2 linked regions of the Homo sapiens genome follow. The protein of the gene in region 2 interacts with the protein of the main gene of each other region in a pairwise test. Each region holds a gene or a part of one and is shown on either strand. Other genes may lie near its edges.

Evidence for each region. Proteins that work in one complex are often made in the same cells at the same time.
Region 1: the proteins of SH3PXD2A (region 2) and SVIL interact in a two-hybrid assay, tested with the Homo sapiens proteins (one study listed by BioGRID).

Annotation. Positions count from the first base shown.
Region 1 is NC_000010.11:29,624,972-29,631,971, reverse strand, and holds part of SVIL (supervillin), read left to right. Parts: intron 1-7,000.
Region 2 is NC_000010.11:103,845,564-103,852,670, forward strand, and holds part of SH3PXD2A (SH3 and PX domain-containing protein 2A), read right to left. Parts: intron 1-7,107. UniProt on the Homo sapiens protein: Adapter protein involved in invadopodia and podosome formation, extracellular matrix degradation and invasiveness of some cancer cells. Binds matrix metalloproteinases (ADAMs), NADPH oxidases (NOXs) and phosphoinositides.

The DNA.
Region 1 (7,000 bases), about 74 Mb from region 2:
CGCTGATCTCAGGGTGCCTTGCTGTGACTGGGAGTATCCGTAGGTCTAGAACTTTCCAGCAGTTCTGGGCTTCATTGATTTGTGACTCAACTAGGAATCTTCTGGTCACCCTTGACTCCTCTCCCTTTAGGTCCCCGAGGCCTCTGCCCCACCACCTCCTCTTAAGCCTCGCCATCTTTTTTATTTTTTATTTTTTTGAGATGGAGTCTCACTCTGTCAGCCAAGCTGGAGTGCAATGGCACAATCTCGGCTCACTGCAATCCCTGCCTCCCGGGTTCAAGGGATTCTCCTGCCACAGCCTCCTGAGTAGCTGGGATTACAGGTGTCCGCCACCACGCCCGGCTAATTCTTGTATATTTAGTAAAGATGGGGTTTCACCATGTTGGTCAGGCTGGTCTCGAAATCCTGACCTCATGATCTGCCCACCTCGGCCTCCCAAAGTGCTGGGATTACAGGTGTCCGCCACCACGCCCGGCTAATTCTTGTATATTTAGTAAAGATGGGGTTTCACCATGTTGGTCAGGCTGGTCTCGAAATCCTGACCTCATGATCTGCCCACCTCGGCCTCCCAAAGTGCTGGGATTACAGGCATGAGCCACCGCGCCTGGCCTCGCCTCGCCATCTCTTACCTGGGCTACTGCTTTGCCCTTAATGGATCCCTTGGCCCTCGGTTTCTCCTCCGTCTGGTCTAGCCACAGAATGACCTTCCTAAACAAAGATCTCATCTTGCACTCGGCCAGGGCCAAACCCTCATCGTTCCTCACTGCTTACATGCAAAAGCCTGGGCTCTGTAGCCTCCCCTTCAGGGTCTTTCATGCCCCTGGAGTTCTGTTGGCAAGTCTCCCCAAAATGTTGTCTTCTCTTGCCTGCCAGGGAAGCAATATCAAAGGAGATGTGCCAGAAGCTTCCTCTGACATGCCTCTGGCCTCCTGGGCCTCGACTCCAGCCTGTACTCTAGGGCTGCAGTCACTAGGTCCTGGTGGCCCTTTCCTTGGCAGCAGGGTACCCAGTGAGGTGCTTGGGTCTCACTTCTCTTACCACCCCCAGGGTCTAGCCCAGTGGGCAATCCAGAAATGTGAGTTGTTTGAACGGATTGAATTGTAACGACTTGTGGGTTCTTCATATCGAAATTTGGCTGTGATCCATCCAGTACTTTTGCCCTCATCCTATATTACTCACAGTAGAAGCTGGTGTTCTGTGTTATAAGTTCTCCTTTTTTTTCCTTCATCTATGACAATGCAAGCAGAAACGTTCGTGTTGCGGTAACAAGTCCGATGGGGTTTCTGTATATGGGGTTTCTGTACACGTGCTTTTGCCAACCGGGAAATTAAGGTGTGCCGCATGAAGTCAGTCACTTCATTATTGGAACTTTGCCTAAAATGAAGAAACTCATCTAGTGGTGCAATTTGACCTAAGTGTTTTACCCATACAGTCAACTTCAACTTGGGTCACACATCTCAGGAGCAGTTTGCACTGTTGATCTCAGGGGCTCTTTAGTATTGGTTCAGAGAGATCTCTGTCCCTCTTAGAGACACTCCCTATTGTAGGAGGTTTTGAAAGAGGCATTCTTTTTCCTCCTAATGTGCTTGTCCCCTTCTGAAAGTTGATCCTTTAATCCCAAACAAGTTTATAACCTATGTCTAACTGGTTTTTGTGTAAATATAGTAAAAGAAATAGTTTCCATATTTGCTTTGGGATCATTGGTCTGCCCATGTCACAGCCCTGGGTACATTCATTTCAGTCCATATTTTTGGGGCACTTTCCCTGTGCAGAGCTCCGGGTGGGTCCTGTGGGATGCAGAAGCCTATAGCGTATTCCCTCTCATTGGCAGCCTCTTTCCCAGAGTGTCTCGGACAGGGATGTAATGGAGCTATTTTACCAGTCAGAGTAGAAGGGATGAACAATAATAACATGCCATCCATTATTACTGTGTGCCAGACTTAATGCCACACTCTTTACCTCTACAATATATCACTTAATTATTTTTATTTTTTGAGACAGTCTTGCCTGGTCACCCAGGTTGGAATGCAATGGCATGACCATGGTTCACTGCAGCCTCGAACTCCTGGGCTCAAGCATTCCTCCTTCCTCAGCCTCCCGAGTAGCTGGGACTATAGGCAATCACTACTATGCCCAGCTAATTAAAAAAAAAAATTCTAGAGGCAGGGGTCTCACTATGTTGCTCAGGCTGGTCTTGAGCTCCTGGCCTCAAGCTATCCTCCCATTAAGGCCTCTCAAGGCACTGGGATTACAGGTGTGAGCCACCACGCCCGGACTCTAATTTTTACAGTAGCCCCCAAGAAATATTAGTGCAATTGTCTTCATTCTACTGAGGAAAAAACTGAGGGTTAGAAATGCTTGCCCAAGCTTGGGCACATACCATGTGCCCAAATCCAGCTGGATTTGAACCCAGATCTAGTTGACTTCAGTGCCTGTATTCATAACCGCTGCTTTAGCCAGTGCAGCCCAAACTTTAATAGGAATCACCTGCAGTCTTGTTACTGCAGCGTCTGATTCAGTAGGTCTGCACTGGACTTAGAGATTCAACAAACAGGATCCAGGTGATGCTAATTCCTGTCTGAGGACCTGCTTTGAGCCGCCTTAGGTTAATTCTTTGCCACGTGCCTGAGATGGAAGCAACCAGCTGGGGTGCGGGACTCGAAGGGGGCTTCCGAGGAGGAGAAGGAGTCTTTCAAGGCTCCTCTGTTCCTCTAGGCTTTTCATGCCACCCCTTCCCGCTCTCTACCTACACCATTCTCTCCCGTTTGTCTTATTTTCCACTCTGCTCTTCTCCTGGCTTCTCCTTGTGTTGAAAACATCCTCAGGTTTCATCCATTCTAAATAAAGCTCCCCTTGACCTCAAGCGATCACTTCTTTCTTTCCTGCCCACTCACTCCTCAGCACTGATCAGGAGCTCTTCTGTCTTCTCCTCTTGGACACCTTTCAAGACCTCCTGGTTACTTTGATGTCCCCGCAGCCTCCCTGGGATGGAACCCCTCTCCGTGAGAATCCCATCTCAGGTCTAGTGAGGGTGATGGGGCTCTGACCTCCATACTCAGCATCCACACCCTGCTGTGATCTTGAGGTCTCCTGGCGGCCTTATTTTAAAAATCATTTTCTGTCTCTTTGCTTGCTCAGCTTTCCTTCTTAAGGTCCATTTAAGATTTTTTAAAAAATCCTGGTGTTCCTCTTTATAAGGTGAATTGTTCAACATGTCCATTTCAGGTGGAATGCATTCATTTGGCTTTTAGAACTGATTTTCTGTTTGTAAGTAGAAATTAACTCCCAATTAGCTGTGTGAGAATTTGTATCCTCTGTATCTGCTATCAATAGAAAAGAACAATTCGGTTCTGGGCGAAGACCCAAAGGGCTTTTTATTAATAATGCACCTACGATTTGTGAACTGTGTTTAGGTTCATCAGAGGCCTCTCGTTTCTTTCTGGACTTTCAATTACGTTCTGAGCATGGAAAGTTGGCAAATAACTTAGGCTTGGATGGATAGATACAGTCATTGAATAGAAAAACCATATTGATATTTTTAGGTTTTTAAGATCTCACATACTTTAAATATTTCAAAATTTTAAGTAAATACTCTTTCATACATTCTGAAACATTATATCTAATTTATCTCAGCCAAAAATTTAAGACATATACATGTTGCAGTTGCACACCTGTTACTCCAAAACAAACAAACCGCTCCAGCCAAAACCCAAATGGGAAAGCACTTGATTTTCAGTAGCTTAAAATATGTTGAATTAAGAGGTAGGTTATGAAAGTGAAAATGACATCTGAATGTTTTAGTGGTTTTGGATATAAATTTTCTTAGGAATTTTTTGTTTGAGTTAAGCTGATAGTTTAGTTTACTGTGTGCTATGTTGGTTGCAAAATTCAGCTACATTTGTTTATTTTGCAATTAATTCAATTTGTTTGCAAATATTGCATCAGACATCTAAACCAGCTAATAACTCTATAGGTTTGAGCCAGGTTAGAAAAAAAGGCTTGGCTGTACCGTTAAGAAGCAGCTAGCTCTCTAAATTGTGCTGATAGTCTTAATTTCCCCCGGATGTTCATTTTAGCCACACACACATAACCATTTGGATTTATGATTTCATACATTTTTTATTGGAAGTGCTGAATATTTTAAAATTCTGTGATTAGATAAAATTGGTCATTGTGCTTCAGAATAGGGTGACTCAGCTTCATGGGATGTACTTTACCCAACACAGGATTCTCCCATTTGAGATGGAATTTATTAATTTGGATTTGTATCAGGTCTTCACTCCAGAGGCATCAGAGAGCTTTCAGGCAGCCAACTATTCTTAAATATTTCAAAAGGAAGTTGCAGTGGGCACGTGGCGTGGAGAACACAGCAGAGCAAAGTGATGTAGGGGCCATAACAGCCAACATGCTTTGTTTCCTTCATTCATTCACCTACCTCCCCAAAAGTCCAAAGAAGTGTTTTCCCTGCTCTCGGTGCAGGAGGAAGATTTTATCTGGAAATTGAAGGTGTCAATGGCCAGAGAAAGAAGGAGGAACATTGATTTTCATGAATAACCAGCTGTGTGACCTTGGGTAAATTCTTAACCTCTCTGAGCCTCAGTGGCCTCATTCATTCAAACAAGGGTTGGACTAGAGGATTTTTAAGACCCCTTTTACGTATTGGGATTCTGTAATCCAAAGGTTTCAGAGATCGAGAATAATCTGTCTTCCTTGGAAAGGCAACACCTTGTATCTGGAAGGTAGTAGTTCAAGGTGGGAGAGCAGGAACAAATTAGAAATGTGTTGAGAAAGAAGATCTTTTTTAAAAAGTCCTCTCACTGTCCTTGCTTGTTTCTGTTGAAATACACAGACTGTTTCTCCCTTCTCTGATGGCTTCATAATCATTCTTTGTCTTTGATTCTTATTATTTATTTTATTTTATTTTATTTTATTTTCATTTTATTTTTTTGAGATGGAGTCTCGCTCAGTCTCCCAGGCTGGAGCTCAGTGGCGCAATCTCGGCTCACTGCAAGCTCCGCCTCCCGGGTTCACACCATTCTCCTGCCTCAGCCTCCTGACTAGCTGGAACTACAGGCGCCCGCCACCACGCCCAGCTAACTTTTTGTATTTTTAGTAGAGACGGGGTTTCACCGTATTAGCCAGGATGGTCTTGATCTCCTGACCTCGTGATCCACCCGCCTCCGCTTCCCAACGTGCTAGGATTACAGGCCTGAGCCACCGCGCCCAGCCTGATTCTTTATTTTGGAAAGTTTCTGACACCTCTTTAAATTAAGCTCTCATAGTTTCTTTTGTGTTCATTTAAGTATGTCTATTTTCTTTTCTCTAACCTAATTTATTTTTATCTTCTTTTGGACATTTGTTTTTTCTCCTGATGTGAAACCCCAAAGTGGTCACAGCAGACTCGCTCAGGGATGCCTGAGACCGTCAGAATCTTCGTGTTCACAACAAGATGGGATGTGCTTGGCTTTCGTTTCCCTTTGAGTTTATTAGTTCACTGCCAGGTATTCATTTATTCTCAACAGTTGTTTTCTGAGCACTTACTGTGTGTCAGGGACTGGTATAGGTGTTGGGGAAAGAGCGGTGGGAAACAAAATTCCTGCCCTCGTAGCGTTTAAGTTCCAATGGAATGGTACTAAAGTACCCTGAGCGATTCTCTTGATCTTCAGCCCTACATCTGTTGTTCAAGTGCTTAGGTTAATAACAAAATGTAAAATACCTACCATGGTTTCACATAGTTATGTGTGTCTGATGTAGGGGCCATAACCGTGTGTGTGTGCCTTGAGAAAACTTAAGATCTACTTCTTGGCAAATTTTAAATATATAATACATTGTTAGCAACTATAGTCACCATGCTATACCTTAGGTTTCCAGAACTTACTCGTAACTACAAGTTTGCATCCTTTGACCAATGTCTTTCCAATTTCTCCTACCTCCAGCCCCTGGTTACCACCTTTCCATTTTGTTTCTGTGAGTTCAGCTTTTATATCAAAACATCATGCTGCACACCTTGAGTATATACAATTTGCATTTGTGAATTATACCTCAAAGCTGAAAAAAGACCCCAAAAAACCCGGCATGGTTCCTAACCAAAGGAGACACTTGTAAGGCTTTGTATCCTCCTACAGTTTGCATTTTGTATCTTCTGAAATTCTCTCTTCCCCTAGAATTCATACTGATAAAGCTTATACGCATTTCAAAATATATGTTTGAGGCTGGGCGTGGTGGCTCATGCCTGTAGTCCCAGCACTTTGGGAGGCCAAGGCGGGTGGATCACGAGATCAGGAGATCGAGACCATCCTGGATAACATGGTGAAACCTCGTCTCTACTAAAAATACAAAAAATTATCGGGCATGGTGGTGGGCACCTGTAGTCCCAGCTACTCGGGAGGCTGAGGCAGGAGAATGGCGTGAACCCAGGAGGCAGAGCTTGCAGTGAGCAGAGATCGCGCCGCTGCACTCCAGCCTGGGCAACAGAGTGAGACTCCGTCTCAAAAAAAAGGAAAAAAAATATATATATATGTATACTTGAGGCAAGTACAAGTCAAGTACCCATCTCTCTCTATTTTTAAAATTCATGCTTTCTCTGCTATCATAACATTCGGTCTATAAAACGTTGATTTCATTACCAAGGCAAAGGTTGATGTTGATATCAAGCAGGATGTTACAGAAATAAATCATTGGATCCACTTTACTTCTTTCTTACTTTCAGACTTTGTCTCAGAACTTTATTAAACTTAGCAAAAGTTAAAAAGAAAGGTAGTCTTAACTGAAGACTTTGAGATGATTTTAGAAGGAGTTTAGTAACATTGGATGAACTATTGTGTGTCACTAATCATGTCAGAGAATGTAACTTACAACTGAAACTTTGGAGTCTGTAATCTTTCTGTGTGTTTTTTTTTTCTTTTTAAGACGATTCACCTGGTCACTTCTATCACTGGGTGAAGCTGATTGTATATAAGCTAGATCTGCCTTCTGCCTACCTTTATGTTAGTACTATTTT
Region 2 (7,107 bases):
AGCATATCATCAGGAAATAACCATAAAAATGGGTAACCAGTGGCCCTCGGGGCTGCTCTGTCTATGGAGCAGCCATTCTTTTATTCCTTTACTTTCTTAATAAACTTGCCTTCACTTTACTCTATGGACTTGCCCTGAATTCTTTCTTGCTGGAGATCCAAGAACCCTCTCTGGGGGTCTGGATCGGGACCCCTTTCCTGTAACAGCTCTATGATGATGATGGTGATACAATACGTGCCAAGGTCTCCTTTAGTGAGAGTACGCCTCAAAAAAGGAAAACAACGTAGGTTCTCCATCAGGGACCACACAGTGATAGGCAAAAGTGCAAACCAGCCCACACTCCATCAATCCCTACCCCACCTGGTACACCCTGCAAGTTCATTCTCAACATGGGGCATTACTTCCATTCCTGACTCCCTGAAGTTGTGGTCAGATCAGGTAAGAGTGATCAGTTTCCAACAGGTCTAAAGTTCATGCTCCAGGGATCCCAGAAACAGGCTAAATTGTCCCACCCGCCCCACTGCATAATTTATGCTGCATTGACACACACACACAGAGTCTACCCCGACCCAGCCATGGGCCTCCGCCCAGGCTTGGGGAGGGTGGCTTCCTCGCCAGCCAAAGGGAAATGACAGCACAGGGACAGAGAAAGCAGCCCAGTGGAGTGGCAGAAACCACAGCTGTTTCCCCTTTGCTAACTCAGCCACTTAGATATCACTTCCTCCGCTCAGGTAACAGCAGGGAGAGATGGGACTGGGAATAACTCTGTCTTTTCCTGTTCACAAAAAAATGATTGGTTTGGAAAGAAGGAAAACCAGAGGCCGTTTTCTAGAAGAGATCTTCACTAAGAGCCTAAGTACTCCTGAGTCGACTCTGTCTATGAGGCTTCTCAGGAGAGGTGGCTGGGCAGGTGAACCTTGTTTAAAAATTCCCTGGGGTCAGGAACAACTCACTTTGTATAGCATCCCTGCCCTAGATAATTAAGAACCCAGACTGGGGGATCAAGGGACCTCCTCACACAGCTATCATCTCTGGGCTCAGTGCTTTCCAAAGCAGCTGTTATACCTGCCCTCCGCTCTGCAAGGCAAGCCTGAAAAGAAACAGTTGCACCATTTTCTAGATGGGCAAATGTAGTTCTAGAAGGGGGAGGTGACATGTGGAAGATCTCACGGCTTGAGGAGCCAACCAACTAGGCCTAAGGTGGAACCATGGAGCCCAGGCATCCTGGGTGTGTAATGTGTCATTAAGCGGTCTCTGTGGGGACAGGGCAGGCTTTGGAGCCAGCAGACCTGGGTCAGTGCAGGCCTCTCCACATGCAGCTCATCAGCTGCGTGGCATCTGGCAATTCATTTGAGCTCTCTGAGCCTTTGTGCTGTCACCTGTACAGTATGGATGCTGGTGGGAGCTACATGCTGCGTGGGGCTGTTCTGAGAACATCCATATGAGATGCTTAGCACATAGAAAACATTTAGAAAGGTCAGCTGTTATTTTTATTGTTACATTTTCCCTAAGAATAAGGTTTACTAGACTATCTGGGAGTGTGGTAGAGGTCAAATAAATGAAGAGGTAGTTTGAAGCATTGCATTTACTTATTTGTTTTTAGAGACAGGGTCTTGCTGTTGCCGAGGCTGGAATGCAGTGGCATAATCATAGCTCACTGCAGCCTCCAATTCCTGGGCTCAAGTGATCTTCCCACTTCAGCCTCCCGGGTAGCTAGACTACAGGTGTTCATCACGATGCCTAGCTTTTTAGAATTTTTTTTTTTTTTGAGACAGGGTCTCACTCTGTCACCCAGGCTGGAGTGCAGTGGTGTGATCACGGTTTACTGCAGGCTCAACCTCCTGGGCTCCAGCCATCCTCCCATCTCAGCCGACTGAGTAACTGGAACTACAGGCGCATGCCTCCACACCTGGCTTATTCTGGCTTATTTTTTAATTTTTTTGTAGAGATGGGGTCTTGCTACATTGTCCAGGCTGGTCTGAGCTCCTGGCCTCAGGTGATCCTCCCCACTTTGGCCTTTTGAAGCACTGGGATTACAGTCATGAGCCACCATGCCCAGCTGAAGCACTGCATTTAAAACTAAAACAAGTTCAGGCCAGGCGCAGCGGGTCACACTTGTAATCCCAGCACTTTGGGAGGCTGAGGCGAGTGGATCACCTGAGGTCAGGAGTTCGAGACCAGCCTGGCCAACATGGCAAAACCCCACCTCTACTAAGAATACAAAAATTAGCTGCGTGTGGTGGTGCATGCCTGTAATCCCAGCTACTTGGGAGGCTAAGGCACGAGAATCGCTTGAACCCGGGAGGCGGAGGCTGCAGTGAACCGAGATCGCACCACTGCACTCCAGCCTGGGTGACAGAGCGAGACCCCAACTCAAAAAAAAAAAAAACCAACTAAAACAAGTTCAGAGAGATCCTGAAGTAGAAGGCAACATTAGTGTAGATGGTTCAGAAGACACAGACATGCTGGGCTCCCCTCAGACTGTGAGGTATTGGCCCCCAGAACCTACGAGGATGGGCGCATTCTCGCTCTTGCCACTGGGGGAGTGTGGATGGAAATTACTCCACCTGAAACGCTGCTGCATCAGGCCCTCCCAAGCTAGTTAAGACCCAAAGCAGCTGACACCTCACTTCCTGCTGCTCCCTCTCCTCCTCCTCCTCCTCCTCAACCCTTCCTCCCCAGGAGCCTGGGTGCAATCAACTTTTTATGGGGAAGCCAGACCCCTAGGAGTGAGAGCTGTAAACAGGAGGGGTGGGACCCAGCTGGCCAACTAAAGAGTCCCCCAGGCAGAGCTAGAAAAAGGTTCCAGTCCTTACTTAGCTCTGTTCCAGGCACAGTCGCAAAAACAGCGCTGGAGCCCACCGGGAGGACCTCAAAGTGACTATTTAGCTCCCTCTCCCTGCCAAGCCCTTGGGAGAAAAGGAAGGTTCCAAGGTGTCTACAGAATAAACTGAATTCCCTCTGCTGCCATCGGAGCCTCTCAGAGCTGGCCCTGAGCTTTCCTGTCATCCTTCTCTCCCTCATCCACCCTCGGCTTTGCCCAGCTTTTCCTTGCACGTTCCACCTCCAGCACCTTTGCTTTTCTCTTTCTTGGAATGCCCTTCCCCAGTTTTCCCATCTAAATCCTACTCTTTCCCAGCCAAATCCTAATTACACCTCAAGGTCCATCATGAAGCTGCCTTCTCCAGTCGGTCTTCCCTGGAAACTCCAGTTCACAGAGTGCTCTCCCTCCTCTGAACAGCTTCAGGACTTAGTGATTGTGAAAGCAAATACTTATGCTGAGCTCCATAAGGCGCCAGGTACCGGTCTAAGCTCTTTACAATTACAAACTCATTTCATCTTCATCATAACCCTAAGAGCTAGGTCCAACTTTCCCCATATATTCTTTTTTTTTTTTTTTTTTTTTTTTTTTTTACTGATGAGGAAACTGAGGCTCAGAGACATAAGTAACTTGCACTGTATCCCACGGCAGCGAGTGGTGGGGCCAGGATATCCCAATGCTCAGCCAAGGGATACGGCACACAGGTGCTCTGGGACAACACAGCCTCCCAGGTGCACCCCTCATCCCCAGGTGGTGCTGCCTGGACTCACTGGTTATTTTCTCTCTCACCAAGCCAGCTCTGATGGGGAAGAAGTGGCACTCACAGATGTGGGTGTCAGAGACCAGGGTGAGAATCCCAGCCCTGCCACAGAATTACTCTGAGTAGAATGATACGAACCCTCCGAGCTTCAATTTCCCCATCTATAAAATGGGAATAAAAACACCTACCTAACCGCATGGGGTTGTTATGAGGTTCAAGTAAAATCGCCTCTAAAGGCATCTTCTGCATTGCCTGGCACATAGTAGGTGCTTGTATGTTAGTTCTCCCCCTTCTTATGGGGTCTGGACAGCCTTGCTGGACTCTGACCGGCACCATGCACACAGCAGGGGCTCAGTCTCTGCGGCTGATATGGTGACTTGCCTGGGGGTTACCCAGAGGCACAAGAGGGATCCTCATGTGACCCCCATCCCCTTCACAGCTAGGCTCCTGACCTTCCATTCACCTGCCCACCTGTGACTGGCTGCACTACAGGCAGCAGAAGCCCGGGCCAGGCAGGAAGTAGCACGCTGCTCTGGGAATCCGCCTCTGGAAGCCCTGATCACTCTATTGGGCGCTTCCATTATTTTTGGCAATTGTCATGGCAGAGAACACCTCTGGCCCTCACTCAGAACCTATTTCCAAAGCCAGAATCTCCACCTCATTTCCCACACACACCCCTTGTCCTTCCTGTCCCCTGGGTCCCTATCCTAATCTACTATCCCTTTCCTGGATTCTCAGAACTCGAGAGGAGTAAGTGGGACTACCATGTGTATAACTCTATTATTTGTTTCATTTTGTTTAATTAAGAGGTAAAAGAGAACACAGTTGCCCATTAGACTTTTTCTGGCCAAGAAATAGTCTGGTCAGTGACTCAGGCTGAGGCAATTAGAAGGCAATTTACAGGGAACTGCTGTGCAAACCCAAAGTCAGAAGTCCTAACAACACTTCCCTAATTCATAGCCTCCACGGTCAGTTAACTCATGCTGGCCCCGGAATATCTCTTTGGAAAATGCAGCAGCTGGGGCTTGTATTTCTGGGCTGGAATCGGTCTCCTCTGACATCAAATAGGTTTATTTTTCCCTTCTCTTCCCTTCCCCTCTGCCTGCCACCACACATGGTAATTTCTACCCTGGTTTGCCCCCCAAAAGCCCTCACTCAGCTCAACACAGGGTTGCGATAAATGGCTGGCTGTGCTCCCTGTTCCAACAGCCTTGAAGGGTGTGGTTGGTTGTTCCATGAGCAGGGAGCCTTGTCAGACCCGTGAATCACCCCTCGATCACTTCCCTCCCCAGAGAAGAAACCGTTCCCATGCTTGTGCATGTGTAAGAGAGACAGAGGGACAGAGAGAGCAGGCAAGAGTGTTAACCCATGTGTGGTGCTGACCTTGGGGCTAGGATCCTATTTGACCTTGCCCTTACCCAGAGCAACCTCTTTCCTTCTCTCCTAACCTCTGTTTCTTCCCAGCTTACCAGAAAGCCACCACCAGATCCCAATGCTCAGCTCCAGGAACCCCTCCAGGTCTGAACAGCTGCTCTGTGTTTATCTGTTCCTCTTGGAGGCTGGGTGTTTTCCATGGGGCGTGTAACCCACTTCCCCATCAGACTGTGAAAAGCTGGGCCGTCCTTCTTGCCTCAGTCTTTCCTTTTCTCTCAGATTGACCGATTGGGTCCTAAATCACCTGCAGTGCCTTGGTGATCAGGAACAGCAGATGGCAACTAGTATATGGTGCATGTCCATGGTGAGGTCAGGCACTGGGTAGACACTACCCCAAATTATCTCAGGCCAACTTCCCAAGAGCCCTGTGAAGTTACAGGTGAGGAGACTGAGGCTCAGAGTGACAGCCCAAGGTTGCACAACTAGGAAGTGCCACAGGTAGGATTCAAGCACTGATCTGCCCAACACCATACTCATTCCATAATGGAACTGGCCCTGAAAAAGACCCTTGCAGGCTGTGGCTGCACATTCTCATTCCTGTGGGGCTGGAGTCACAATCTAAGGGCTGAGAAAAAAAAAAAAAAAGAAGGGCACAGAAATGAATGAGTTTGGGGCCAATTCCTAAGCATGTAGCTCCCAGGACCAAGAATAAAATCTGGGATGATCTAAACAGAGGAAGAATATATTATGTCCACAAGGTCAACCCTTAATTTATTACCCTAAGCATTACTGGGGACCAGATACCAGCCTGAAGTTGCTCTACTCCTCCTGCCTCACAGTGACCCGCCTGCGTTGCCCACCATGAACTCACCTGCAGGGCACATGGTAGATGTCTCTACAGTGAGGCAGTCCTAAAGACAACCCTGTACTGCTCTGTCACCATGGAACAGGGCTGAGCCTGGCCTTCCTGCCCGGATTCTAATTGAAGAGAAGGGCCCCACCTTATATCCACATCCTCCTTTGGAGCTAACCTGACCTGCATTGCCCTAGCTCTGCCCTGTGCCAGCTGCGAGACCCTAAGCAAGTTGGTGAATTGCTCCAAGTTGCAGTTAATTCATCTGTAAAACAGAATCCAAAAACCTACCCCACATTAGGGTACATTCAATGACCTGCAGGAATCACACGAAAACACGAGTGTTAAGTATGTTTCACCATCGATGGTAACTGCTAAACTGGCTATTATTTGCATTCCCCAAAGAGTCCTGCAGAGGATCAGAACATTCATGATTGGTATTTGTCTGAAATAAACAATCAGGAAATAAAACAACTGTGAAAGTGCAATACCTCCCAAATCCAAATAGATACAATTTCTTGTTTGTTTTAGATAAACGAGCTTTTCTCTACCACATGAATTGATATATACCTATACCTGCCTGTGAGCACAAAGAACCCGGTGGACCTGAATTCAAATCTTTACTGAAAAACTTTCAAACGAAGGAATCTGCATTCTGCATCCAGCATCATCAGGACCATTTTCAAGACAAGCGGTCAGAGGCCAAAGCCAGTTTACCTAGGGTCTCCCCAGGCACAGCTCAGAAAGCCAGGAAAGGAGCCTAGCTTCATGCCAGGGAGCCTGACCTTAGTAGCAGCTGCCTGCCCTTCTCAACCCCACCCCAAGCAGGGGCCTGGCAGAGAAGAAGGAAGCCAGGGCTGAGTGCCATCCCCATGATGGAAGCTACTTGCGTGCCTTCATGAACTGACCGAAAGCACAGGACCCTTCGTGTTCAGGCAGCTCCCCCTCCCCGTGGGGATGAGCAAACCCTTTGCAGAATGTCCTGAGAGAACCTTTGCAGTGTGTTCCCAGCACTCTGGAGCCAGCAGAGCTCCTCCTGCGTGGGCCCCAGGCCTCTCATCGGCTAGCTCTGGCTAACACGCACATCCCGTAAAACCTCTCTGCTCTGCAATTTACCAAACCACAGACTCAGAATTCACCATCAGCAGAGGAAAGGCTGGAAGGAGGCTTGCTCCTCCAGTGTAGAGGGTTTCCAGAACACAGGCAATGGGTGCAGCACGTCCTGCCAGCTGACCACACCAGAGGGCCTTACTCACAACACTTGAGCTTTTGGTGTGTGGTATTCACCGTGCAAGGGCC